Regions from separate parts of the Homo sapiens genome. Here regions 2, 3 and 4 are each reported to be linked to region 1. The links are microRNA targets in miRTarBase. Many come from high-throughput screens and were not tested one by one. Region 1 holds a microRNA gene; each other region holds the end of a gene's coding sequence. Distances are between the middles of the regions.
The links. The annotated mature microRNA hsa-miR-6134 reads UGAGGUGGUAGGAUGUAGA and lies in region 1 at 1,404-1,422, shown strand. An mRNA with a match to its seed (bases 2 to 7 or 8) in the 3' UTR can be bound and repressed. Matches are read on the target gene's strand: a 7mer-m8 pairs with bases 2 to 8, a 7mer-A1 pairs with bases 2 to 7 and ends in A, and an 8mer does both.

Region 1 (3,244 bases):
GTGTTGGGATTACAGGCGTGAGCCACCGCGCTGGCCTTGTTTTTATTTTTAACGGACGTTTTTGTAAACATTTATAGTTTTAGTAATATATATTTTTATCCATGTATTATTTTGAAGTTAGTTACATGATGCCACTTTCTCAGTTCTTTCTAGCAAAAATTTATTTATTTAACTATCTGATTGGACTGTTAATGGTTCTCTTTCCTTTTTCTTTCCTAATTCATAGAATCAGAGCTATTTTTAGACGATTGTATACTTAAAAAAATTCTACCATAATCAGCTCTTAGAAGCATTAAAATGTTTGGAAGATATGGGGGAAAACAAGAAATACTTTGATATTCTTAGGGGATTTTCCAGGGAAAATATGAGTAGCACTGACCTTTTATATCAAAATTTACCCACTCGAATGGGCACTTCACTGTCAACTTAAATTTTAAGAGGACCTAAAAAGGTTGTCTAGAATATAAATTAATTCAAATGTTGCAAGTTGACATATCACTTGAATTTCATATGATACATATTTTCCTAGATCTTTGGATATAGCACTAAGCATAGGAAAATGCTGAAAGGGGTGGACTACCTAGGGACCTTGGGACTTGAAGAATAAAACGGTGATGTGTTATCTGCGTTTCCTTAATATAGCCCATATATCCCAGACAGGGCTCTTCAGAAGCATCTAACCCGGAACTGCCAATAGCCATGGATAAAAGAAAACTCCAAAAAAAGTACTTTCTTCCCTAGCTAATTGACCAGAAATGGGGTGTCCCAACAATAAAAAAAACCTTTTTGGCAATACATACACCCTCAGCCAAACATCAATAGAAAAAAATGCCCCTGCTTTTGGGATTTCAGTGAAACTTAGTGGGGAGTTGATTTTCACACCACTACCCTACTCTATGAAAGCAGGTGGTGGGACTCGAATTTCTTCCTTCCTTTTCCTAGGGTGGGGCTGAGCACGGACCTAATTTTCTAAATGTGGAGCTAATCTTCCCACTGCTGCCTGGTGGAAGCAGACAGCACTTTTGTCAGCAAGTTAATGGGGCAGTTGAAATTCTGCTTCCATTCAGCAGAACCAGGAAGTGCTCCAATTCCTCTGCCAAGATAGTGTTAGCAGGACTGAGCAGGGACCTGGTCTTTTTGCCTCTCCCTGGCTGTCTCAGGCAGTATTCTGATTCCCCAGCCAGTGTAGTGGCCGTGGGGTCCAGCAGGCAGCTGAGCCTCCTCTGTACCCAGGATTAGTGAGACTTAGGAAGGCAGTACAAATTTGGGTCACCAAGCATTTCATTGATGCCAGGCATTGATGCCAGGTGGGAGTTGAACCTCAGCTCCCCACTGGGCCTTGATGTCAGTAGGGCTCAGTAGGGAACTGACCCTCTATTTCCACCTGCATAAATGAAGCTGAATGAGGTGGTAGGATGTAGAGCTGGTTGACACTCTGCTTTCTCAAACCCTGTGCTTCCCTGGTATTAATGGGGTTTAGCAGACAGTGAGCTTCTGCCCCCATCTGTAGTAACAAAGAGGTATGCATCAGTCCTCTCCTTACCCCTTGCTGGTGTCAGAGTGTCCAGTGGGAAGTCGAGCTTATACTCCTACTCAGAGGCAATGAAGCAATGTGACTCAGTGTCCTACTTTCATCAAGATGGTGTTAACAGGGCCAAAGGTGTGGCTAAACCTCTACCCCACTTATCTGTAGTGAGGCAATGTGAGTCACTGCCCCACTTTTGTCATGATAGTGTTGGTGGGGTTCAGTTGGAAACAGAATATGCATGGCAAACTGCCTTCATGCTACACTTGAACAGGCAATTGTCTGCTAAAAAGAGGAGATGAAATAGGATCCATAGTCTCATAATGTAATATCTAAAATGTCTAGACTATAATGGAAAAATCACTTGCTATACGAACAATCAGAAAAATCACAGCATGAATAAAAAGAACCAACGAACTGATAAAACACCAAGGTGGTTGAAAGCAAGGTGAATCAGATCTTCGCATTATCTGATAAGGTTTTTAAAGCAGCCATCATCAAAATGTGTCAACAAGCAATTACATATACTCTTGAAACAAAGGAAAAAAATAGAAAACCTCAGCAAAGAAATAGAAATTATAAAAAAGAACAAAATGGAAATCATAGAACTGAAAAGTGTAGTAATTAAAATAAATTCAATAGGTGGGCTCAAGAGTACATTGGAGATCACAAGAAGATAGAATCAGTGAACTTAAGTACAGATTATTGGAATGCACTCAGTTTGAAATTTATCTCAACTCAGGGGAGAAAAGAGACCTGGCAGAAAATGAACAAAGTATCAGGGAACTTTAGGACAATAACAACTCAGGGGAGAGAAGAGACCGGGCAGAAAATAAACAAAGTATCAGGGAACTTTTAGGACAATAACAAAGATCTAACATTTGTATCATCAGAGTCTGAGAAGAACAAAAACATTTAAAGAAATAATGGTTGAAAACTCTCCAAATTTAGTGAAAGCCATATCCTATAGATTCAAAAAGCTGAGGAAACTCCAAGTAGGATAAACCTAAAAAAATGTATGCAAAGACACAACAAAATTAAACTTGTGAGAACTAAACAAAAAGAAAAGAATTAAAAGCAGACAGACAGAAACAACATATTGCATATAGAGGAATACCACCTTGAATTGCAGTAAATTTCCCACCCTAAAACTATGCAATTTAGAAGGCGTGGTGCAAGATTTTTCAAGTACTGAAAGGAAGTAAATATCAACCCAGAATTCTGCATCCAGCAAAAATATTCTTCAGGAATAAACGGGAAATAAAGACATTCTCAGGTGAAGGAAACCTACAAGAAGGAAACTTATGATACTTTGTTGCAAGTAAAAGCACCCTTAATGAAAGGCTAAAGGAAGTTCTCTAAACAGAAAGGAAATGATAACAAATGAAGGCTTGGAACTTCAAAAAGGAAAGAAAAGCATCAGAATGAGTAAGAATGGGGTAATATATTGAAGACTAGTCTTCTCATGAGTTTCATACACTATATTTGATGTTTGAAGCAAAAATTATGACATCATTAGATGTGATGCTCAATGTATCTAGAGTAAATAATTAAGATCATTATATTTAAAATTTAGGAAAGGTAAAAGGACCTAAATGGTAGTAAGATTTCTACACTTCACTCAAAGTGATAAACCATTAATAGAAGTGATAGCTTACTTACATGCATTGTAACACCTAGAGCAACCACTAAGAAAACAATATAAGATGATATGTTCAA
Region 2 (3,244 bases), not on the chromosome of region 1:
TTAGATAAGTCGTTTAAGCTTTTTGAGCCTTTGTAAAATGTAAGAAATGTTAGCTTTGTTGTGAGAATTAGAGATACTACATATAATATGCCTGGAATGCAGCAGGCACTTAATAAATAATAACCATTTTGGTAGTGGTGGGATAGGCGATTGGGCTTAATGTATAATGATGCCAGAGGTTTTATTAAATTGTTGAAACAAATTCATTAGATAAGCATTTTGTGTAATGAGGACTGAGGAGTGGAAACGCAGTTCCACCTAACATATGTGTTCTTCTTTCATTTCTTTCTCTAGTCTTTGAAGCCATCAAATCATGCTACCATCCAGAGTATAGTGAGAGCTGTGGGGGTCGTTCCTGGGATTCCTGAGCCTTGCTGTGTACCAGAAAAGATGTCCTCACTCAGTATTTTATTCTTTGATGAAAATAAGAATGTAGTGCTTAAAGTATACCCTAACATGACAGTAGAGTCTTGCGCTTGCAGATAACCTGGCAAAGAACTCATTTGAATGCTTAATTCAATCATTAGTTTATTTTTATGGACTTCTTCCTGTTTTTTTTTTTTTTTTTTTTGCACTGCCAATGCATTTTGTTTCAAAAGATTATTTCTATAGTCAGAGGGGAATGAGCAAATAGACTGAAGATTGCCACCAAGGAAAAGAACTGTATTTGTTTCTGAATGTAACTTAAAGCAAGATTTTTAGTAAATATGGACATCTATTTCTCTTTTTGTAATCAAACACAACAACTTATCAAACTGTTTTTAGAACTGTTAGAGAACACACTGGTTTATTTTTGTAATGTTCTTTGAAAACAGAATGGAGAAGCAGCAATAGCTTGTCATTTATCTCATTTAATGACTAATGGGAAATAGAGAACAATTTCGCGTTTTGAATTAGGCTTATTGCCTTAGAATCCTGAGAAAGTGCTAAATAATCAACTCTGATGTTTTTCTTAAGTTCTTGAGACTCTTGTTTATCCTTGTTTTTCCTCCACAAGTCATTGTCTAAGTGTAATGGAAAGTTTATGCTGAGCGTTAGTGTGTATGTATGTGCGTACATGCGCCAGGTGCCTGTGCCCTCTGTAGGATGGTTTGCTTAATATGGTTTTATAATTCAGTTTACACAGGATTCTTTATTTTTTTTAATTTTGTATTTTGGCAAACACCATTCAGTTATAAGAACTTTGCCAAATATGATAGAATAATTCAAGAGCATATACAGAGAGTTACCACTTGACCCAGCTATTTAATTGCAAATACAGTTGTTTTCATTTCATTTCCTACCAGAAAAAGGAATCAGAAACCTAGTTTTTGAAAACACAAGTGTAATTCCTCTTTTGTACTTCTTTTTCACAAATGCTTTTATTTATTCTAAATTGAATTTAAAAATCCTTCCTAAAGCCATTAACTCTTTAATTCTCCTGATATGCCTTTACTTCCTATGAAGTTATTGGTAGATGTTGAGGCCCAAAAACTGGTAGAATATTGAAGATCTTCTTAAATGACCAATTTAACCATAACCAAATATTGAATATCATTCTTCAGTCACATCTAAGTCAGGCACTTTTTCACATAGATCAGGGCTTTTGGCTCAGTCACGAAATCTACAAGTTAGCAAAGCTTACAAAACATTATTCGTCAGGTATGGGAATCAAATATAGACACTTGTTTGTCTTTGCTTTCCATTTCTATGTGTCACATACATATATGTGTCCTCTTATAACTTTAGTCTTCAAAATTATTTCAATATCCTTCTTCTCACTATATTTATTTGTGTGATGGAAATGCTTTCAGGCCGTAGATCATTGTTGGTGTTAATCTGTGGTTAATCCTCATTTTAGTTCCGTCTTATCTGATACTTAGAAATATCTCAGCCATTTTGGAGGCTGTGCAGTATCAGAAGACGTGGAGTTTGTTCTGTCTCTGCCTGTAGCTAATTATGGTGGTTCAGTCATTTAATAAATATGTTTTGAGCATCTATTTTGTGAAAGGCACTGTGTTACCTGTGTGTCTTTAGTGTCCTCACTGGTAAAATGAAGAGGCTGGCCATGAGCTGGAAGGGTTAAGTTTATAATTCCAGCTATTTCACACCCGTCTTCCTTGAAGGAATGATAGTGATAGATATAAAAACACTGTAAGTCCCTCTTTTAATAAACTAAATGAAAGAACATCCTATACTTCGCTGTTTGTAAATTAGTATGGCATTCGCTTTGGTTTAAGTGGTATTTTATTGCAAACCCATTAAAAGAATAACTCATGAAAAGAAGCTCTTTGACACCTTGGGGTACACAAATGTTGGTGTGGGTGTGTGTTAATTCTGTGAGTGAGACACACCAGTTCTAAAAAAAATGAGTGAAGTTCTGGTGCCTGAGTTACCATGCTTTCTTCTAGTTCTTACAGTAGCATAAAATTAAAGATTCAAAGTGAGATGGAGGATAAAATTACTTTTTAATACATGTTCTCAAACATTTGAAAATAAAAGTATATGATAGAAGGGGGCCAGAGTGTGGCCACCATCCTGATCGTACTGTTTTTCAATAAAGAAAACTTTTTCATTGGTAGATTTGGTGAAATTCTAAATTTAGGTTTTTTTCTAGAGCTGTATCAACCAAAACTTCTGGCAATTCCCAGTATCACTTCTTAGCCTTCTTATATCCAAATGCCTGTTTATTACCTTTCTTAATTTGAATCAATGCCTAGTTATTACAGATTGCACCCCACAATGGCCAAAAACCCACTACATAATAAAATTTACAGGTACTAACTAGTTAAGATTATATTTTAAGTAGCAATTGATATAAAATTACAACACAATGAAAGAACTTGGGTAATCTCTTAGCAATGGAAATAGGTTTTAACCAGCAGTTTTTCTGGGTGCTTTGTAACTATCATTTTACTAATGAATTGAGGATGTATTATGGTTTAAATTGGAAGAGTTTTATTCCCAAAGAATAAAGCAAGATTATCTTTCAGTAGTAGAGATTGAAGTAAATGTATTAATATTTTAATTAATACAGATTTACTAAGAGTAGTTAGAAAATTTAGTAAGTGCCTGTTTTACAAATTGTTAGGTACTAGTTTCTGTATAATTCCTACACAGAAGCTTTAGAAATCTCCTGATATTAAATTATTAAATTGGCATTCATGAAAAGAGAAGCTACAATTATAAACTCCATTTGCTAAATCATGCATAATACTCTCTCTCTCTCTTCCCCCACAAGTAATCTCTCTACCCCATGCAGTGT
Region 3 (3,000 bases), not on the chromosome of region 1:
GAGCAAAATTCCATCTCAAAAAAAAAAAAGGCAATGGTTGGTATTTGGTATTTAAGGTTTTAAAATTGCATTTTTGTTTCTACCACCTGTAAGCTACAAAAATTAAATGGGTTTCTTTCGCCATCTGCAGCTATCACTTGTTCAAGTGAAAACTAGACACACTTACTTTAATAAGCCCAGTTGAAGCCACATTCTCTACTCATCTATTTATTGCTTAAGGCTATTGAGAGGTGGTTTTCCAGCCAGGGCTAAAGAAAGCCACTTTGGGAGTTCGGTTTCAGACGAGGAAGAAAATATGCACTCAAAGGCATTAAAAACAAAACAAAAAAACCCCCCAGAAACAACAACAAAAAAATATCAGTGAGAAGCTGCTTTTTGCAGTTCATATTAAAAGCCAGACCCTGCTTCCCTAAAACCACGCAATGCAAGCTGCTGTCCTTAGCAGCTGCTACTCCTGGCCCGAGAAATGAAGGCGTCCCAGATCACATGTCACCAGCTTAGGCGCTTCTCACACCCTCGATAACAGGTGTGCGGGGCGCAGTCCGAGGAGCAGCCCCCAAGGGACTGCACCCGAGGACGGAGAACGGATCTCACCAGTGAAGCCTCAGTGGCAAATGTTTTGATCATTTGATGTTGGAATTTGTCAAATCCTAGCTAGAGATAAGTAAATTTCCTCATCATACGCTGAGGTTAAGAAAAACATTCTGATAAGAGTGAGATTCTCGTTCAAGACTGGAGAACCCAGGTGGTCCTTGTTCTCCTACCCACAGGGGGCCAGGTCTCAAGTTTCCTATTCTCAAGCGAGCTTTCAGACCCACTGGGCCAGTTCTTTCAGATGGCAACAAATATCTGATGAATGAATGAATAAATAAATACAAGTGACCAGAAGAGTTAGTGAACACAAAGACTAATATTAGTTTCCTCTAAAAAAAATTTTTTTAAAGAACAAGGAATACATTGGACAAAAAAGGATGACAATCCCTGATCTGAAATAGCTTTAAATAGATTCTCTCTCCCTTTTAAAAATGAAACACCTTAAAACCACAACGGTTTGGGTTTTTAAACTCTCCCCTTCCCCTTAATAAAAAAGGCTGGAAAAATATACAAAAACCTACCCTTTGGGTGTAAACTATCTGATAGTCTCTCTCTCTCTCTGTCTCATGGAGAATCAATACATAATAGTGCATTAGGTAGACAGGATAGTAGACATCTGCAGACGAGATGAGCAATTTCAGCCATGAGGCAGAGGACTGAATAACCCTGAAGCGGTGCTTCCGTGGGGGAAATGGGATAGGAAAGGTATCATTCAAATGGAGCTCAGTGCAGACCTCGTAGGTCCAGTCACATGCCCCCAGAAAGGCAGCCCAAGGAAGCAGCAGCCAAGGGGTGTGGCTGCCCCCACACAGATGCAGGCGCACTGCACATGGGTGTGCTGCTGGGTCAGTGGAGAGCACTCTCCCCCAGCCCCATCGGACACCAAGGCCACAAAAGTACATTCCTTCTGGGTGTCTGTCCCCACACACCCCGTCGAGCCATTTCTGCAGCCAGTGGCAGGGGGCCCAAAATATTTTTGCAAAGGACTCCAAAGCCAGGACAACCAAAGGGGACAACCTCCTCTTCCCTGCCCGGAGGGTCAGAGTTCAGGTCGAGGGCCCCAAGAACATGCCCTTACTATGACCTGGACCTCAGCCAAGACCAGGGCTGTGAACTCTGTCATTTCACTTGGGACCATGACCTGAGGGGACAGACTGAGGACACTGGGCAGAATCGTCCCCATCACCCTGGAGCTTTCATAGCAGCGGCTTGACCTGGCTCCGCAGGGCTGTGGATCATGTACACCCTATTCCTAGCTGCTGCCATCACCTGCCTAAAGGCGTGGGCTGGAGAGGCATGGCGTCTGAGACCTGAAATCGTGTACATTGGGATTTGCCACGAGAAAGAAAGAGGCAGTTTTGCACTGCTCCTCAGAGCCTGTACCCCTATCAACTAGCTTTACTTCAAGTTTCTGGTTCATTTTCTAAGGCAGGTGAAGCCCTGAGCTTTTCAAAGGCCTGAGCTCCCTTCAGGGAGACAACAGTATCTACACATGATGTGGTTCATTTAATGCAGCAGTGATTTTTTTTTCTTTTTCAGCAAAAGTTGGCAGTTAGGGTTCTTTAAAATATATATTTAAATAACTTTTTACATTTACATACAATATCTTAAAAAAAAACAAAGCAGAGAACTCAATCCCACACCTCGGAACCCCAAGCACACACACTTTACAAAACAGAACAACATGTTATCAAAAGAGGCAAAGGACTCGGAGAATTTTGTCTGTTGATTTGTTAATGGGGTAGGGGGTGGTTTTGCCACAGGGGGCTCACATTTTGGGTTGACAAGGAGGGCTCTCTTTATTACCACTTTTGTGTGTTTGTCAAAGCTAAAAAAATTTTTTGTTTTTGTTTTTTGAAAGAAGTCAGTTTGGAGTCTCCATACAGTTCCCAATTTCCAGGTAAGAGTTCCTCCTGAGCTCAGGCTCCCGGGCTGCTGCTGTCTGCTGAGTGAGATCTCGGTCCTGGGAAAGAGAGAGAACAATCATCAGGGGAGGGAGCTGGCACCACACATGGGACCAGGCAAGGGACTCAGGTGGCCCTGTCCCCAGCATGTGGCAGGCCTGTGTATGCTAAAGGGCTGAAGCAGGTTCCTGTTCCCAGAGGGGCTCCATTTGTGCTGAGAGCACAGGTACCTCCTGGAGAGCCAGCCTCTCACTTGGATGTAGAGAGCTTTCTAGAAGCCCTCAGGTAGCACGAAAGCCCAATATATTAAAGATGTTAACTGGGTGCCCGGTGTGCGTCAGGCCTTGGGAAAAGCAGCAGAGAGGACTCCCTCACAGAGATTACGAACCTTGAGACAAAGTAATTTAGCAATAGGATGACAGAAGTGAACAGAAGGTGTGTAGGTGATCTCAGAGGGGGCTGGAGTGTTACCTAACCTAAGATCTGGAGGAGAAAAGTAGCG
Region 4 (3,244 bases), 79 Mb from region 1:
CAAAGTTGGGGACTGGGCCTTTTTTGAATAATCTCAAAACCTCATCCTAGGAAATGAATTACCCAAAGGGGCCCACAAGAGAGATCTTAATGTCAAAATATTCTGTAACAATGAGACCTGACCCACTGATCCAATACTTTAGGAAATAGCATGATGAGCAAGTGAAGGCATTGGTGCTTCACATCAGCTTCTCCCAGAGCAAAAATCTGAGATTAAAGAGGTCTAGAGGGTTAGAGGCGCACATTTCATAGTATACTTTAGTCCCTCCTGAATCACTTTTATCAAAGAGCTAGCTGTAAAATAGATATCCCGATATCCAACAAAAGCAAAAACAAAATAAACAAAAGTAGACCTGGGCTTCACAAATAAGGAAGCACTCTTCATGAAGCTCTGTAGCCATGTAGCTTCCCAAAGTAAAAGAGCACCCTTATTTGATGATGGGCCAAGAAACTCACTCACTTAAGGCCGCCATGGTGGCTCATGCCTGTAATCCGAGCACTCTGTGAGGCCAAGGTGGGCGGATCACTTGAGGCCAGGAGTTTGAGACCAGACTGAGCAACATGGCAAAACCCTGTCTCTACTAAAAATACAAAAATTAGCTAGGTGTGATGGTGCACACCTGTAATCCCAGATAACCTGTAATCCCTCTCGAGGCTGAGGCAGGAGAATCACTTGAATCCAGGAGGTGGAGGTTGCAGTGAGCCAAGATCGAGCCACTGCACTCCAGCCTGGGTGACAGAGCAAGAGAAAGATGAAAGACAGAAAGAAAGACAGACAGACAGACAGAGAGAGAAAGAGAAGGAAGGAAAGAAAAGAAAGAAATGAAGAAAGAGAGAGCTAAAGGGAAAGAAAGAAAGAGAAAAAAAAGGAAAGAAAGAAGGAAACTTAAAATTTTGGAATGCATAATAATTCATCCTTAAATTTTGCACATTTACCTTCTCAAAATAGTTCTTATTTAGCAGGGATGAAAGTAAATGCCCAGCCGGGCACCAGTGGCTCACACCTGTAATCCCAGCACTTTGGGAGGCTGAGGCGGGCAGATCACCTGAGGTCAGGAGTTCAAGACCAGCCTGACCAACATGGTGAAACCCTGTCTCTACTAAAAATATAAAATTAGCTGGGCATGGTGGCACATGCCTATAAATTCTAGCTACTCAGGAGGCTGAGCAGGAGAATTGCTTGAACCCGGGAGGCGGAGGTTGCAGTGAGCCAAGATTGCACCATTGCACTCCAGCCTGGGCAACAAGAGCGAAACTCCATCTCAAAAAAAAACCAAAAAATCAAAAAAAACAAAGAAAGTAAATGCCAAACGTATGTCAATTACTGATGAATGGAAGGAAATTATCACATTTGGCAAAATTAGTTCAAAATGAATAAATCACAGAAATTCTCCTCCCATAAGAAAATACCTAATTTGGATCTTCAGGAGTAAGAACCAGAGATCCACCAGACATTATACATGCTATAATTTAGGTATACTGCACAGAATTACACTCTTATCACATTCTCAGTAAACTCCAGACATCTTAGTCTTACAGTTGAATAAAACTGCTGCCAATGTCTTCTCTTGGTTTAACAATGAAGCTAACGTAGTTTGGAAACAAATAAGAGCTATCAATGGACAGCAAGACATCTATCTAAACCAAACCTTTAGCAGAGAGATCAGTACAGATTATGTATGATACAGACCCCAAATCACACAGGTACACACACTTTATTAGTTTCCTCTACAAGAGACAATAACATCAATCTTTTTTAACAGGAATCTCAGTTCATTTGAGAGGCCAAATAGATCCAAAGAAGGAAGATGAAAATTAAATACTTAAATTAATCAAAAGGCACTACGATACCACCTAAAACCTACTGCCTCAGTGGCAGTAGGCTAAGGAAGATCAAGCTACAGCACATCATCTAATATGAATGTTAGCAATTACATAGCAGGAAGCATGTTTGCTTTCCAGAAGACTATGGTACAATGTTCATTTGGGCCCAAGAGGATATTTGGCCAGGAAAGGATCAAGATAGATGAAGGTAAAGCCAAATCGAAAGGGATAGGTACAAAGGAGAATCCAAGCTACATAGTCAAGCAGATGGTGATGGATCAGGCTTCTTCCTCCCAAGAAACATTTGCTGCACTGTGCTGCCTCCCCCCTCAACCACCCCCCACCCCCCACCCAATGTCTGCTCAAGCTGAGCTGCCTGCTCCTGCCTTACAGGGTGCTCAGCTACCAGGACTAGGTTTGGGGTTGCCCAGGGCTCTTGCTATAATTTAGCATAGACCTTGGGGAGAACTGGTCACACATGGGTTGCCTTTGTTGCTAGTTGTTCTCAACAAAGAAAACCCTGAAGCATTCACATACAAAGTAGTCTGAGCTTCCCCAGTCACAGTCAAACACCCTCACACAACATCCTCAAAAGTCTGAAATCTTGCAGCAGCTGAGCTATAGTTAAAGCTGCAAGGCCCACAGAATTATCAAGGAAGCCAGAATGAGATAATGCAGGTAGGAGGTCCCAGCAGTTAATCTCAATCCGTCTTTCCCCAGTTCGGATAAGCTCTAATATACCTGATGTGGGATGTAGAAAGCTACACTGGAGCAAGCCGGGTCTTCTGCTGAATTTGTCATCAAATACCAAGGGGAAACAAGGGTGGGGTGGATTTTATTCTCAAAAAGCCTCAGAAGTTACTCTATTATAAAGGGACATGGCTGAATAGGTAAGAAACGGATTCTCCATTGTGAGTTCTCCTGATGGCTTCTGCAAGGATCATAGAGATGTCAATCACCTAGAAAGGCAAGAAAGGAAATCAGGTTACTATCATATGGTCAGAGATGACTGGCCAATTTGCAGACACTGATGAGCAGCCAGGCAAGTGCCCTTCCTCTTAAAACTGCAACACTGTGCTGTTTCCCTGTCATGAGGCTGCACTCAGCTATTCTTCATAACATTTTTAAGATAGCCACTTACGGCTGGGCACGGTGGCTCACACCTGTTAATCCCTGCACTTTGGGAGGCCAAGGTGGGCAGATCACTTGAGGCCAGGAGTTGGAGACCAGGCTGGCCAACATGATGAAACCCCGTCTCTACTAAAAATACAAAAATTAACCAAGCATGGTGTGGCACACGCCTGTAATCCCAGCTACTCGGGAGGCTGAGGCATGAGAATTGCTTGAACCTGGGAGGTGGAGGTTGCGGTGAGCCAAGATCGTGCCACTGCACTCCAGCCTGGGTGACAGAGCGAGACTCT

Region 2: miRTarBase lists BMP3 as a target of hsa-miR-6134. The part of its 3' UTR that is shown has no 7-base or 8-base seed match.
Region 3: the mRNA of ZNRF3 is a reported target of hsa-miR-6134. Seed matches in the 3' UTR shown: 7mer-m8 at 228-234.
Region 4: miRTarBase lists PRPS1 as a target of hsa-miR-6134. The part of its 3' UTR that is shown has no 7-base or 8-base seed match.

The regions. Positions count from the first base shown.
Region 1 is chrX:28,493,753-28,496,996 of GRCh38, reverse strand. MIR6134 (microRNA 6134) reads left to right here and starts at 1,334; the gene lies at 1,334-1,442.
Region 2 is chr4:81,053,051-81,056,294 of GRCh38, forward strand. It overlaps BMP3 (bone morphogenetic protein 3), which reads left to right. Exons shown (of 3, transcript NM_001201.5): 3 at 295-3,244. The coding sequence ends at 486. Among named protein-coding and RNA genes, the nearest start is that of BMP3, 24 kb to the left of the region's middle.
Region 3 is chr22:29,053,136-29,056,135 of GRCh38, reverse strand. ZNRF3 (zinc and ring finger 3) reads right to left here. Exons shown (of 9, transcript NM_001206998.2): 9 at 1-2,557. The coding sequence ends at 2,514. Among named protein-coding and RNA genes, the nearest start is that of C22orf31, 7.2 kb to the left of the region's middle. RefSeq lists a silencer at 641-935.
Region 4 is chrX:107,649,478-107,652,721 of GRCh38, reverse strand. It overlaps PRPS1 (phosphoribosyl pyrophosphate synthetase 1), which reads right to left. Exons shown (of 7, transcript NM_002764.4): 7 at 1,696-2,782. The coding sequence ends at 2,690. Among named protein-coding and RNA genes, the nearest start is that of PRPS1, 23 kb to the right of the region's middle.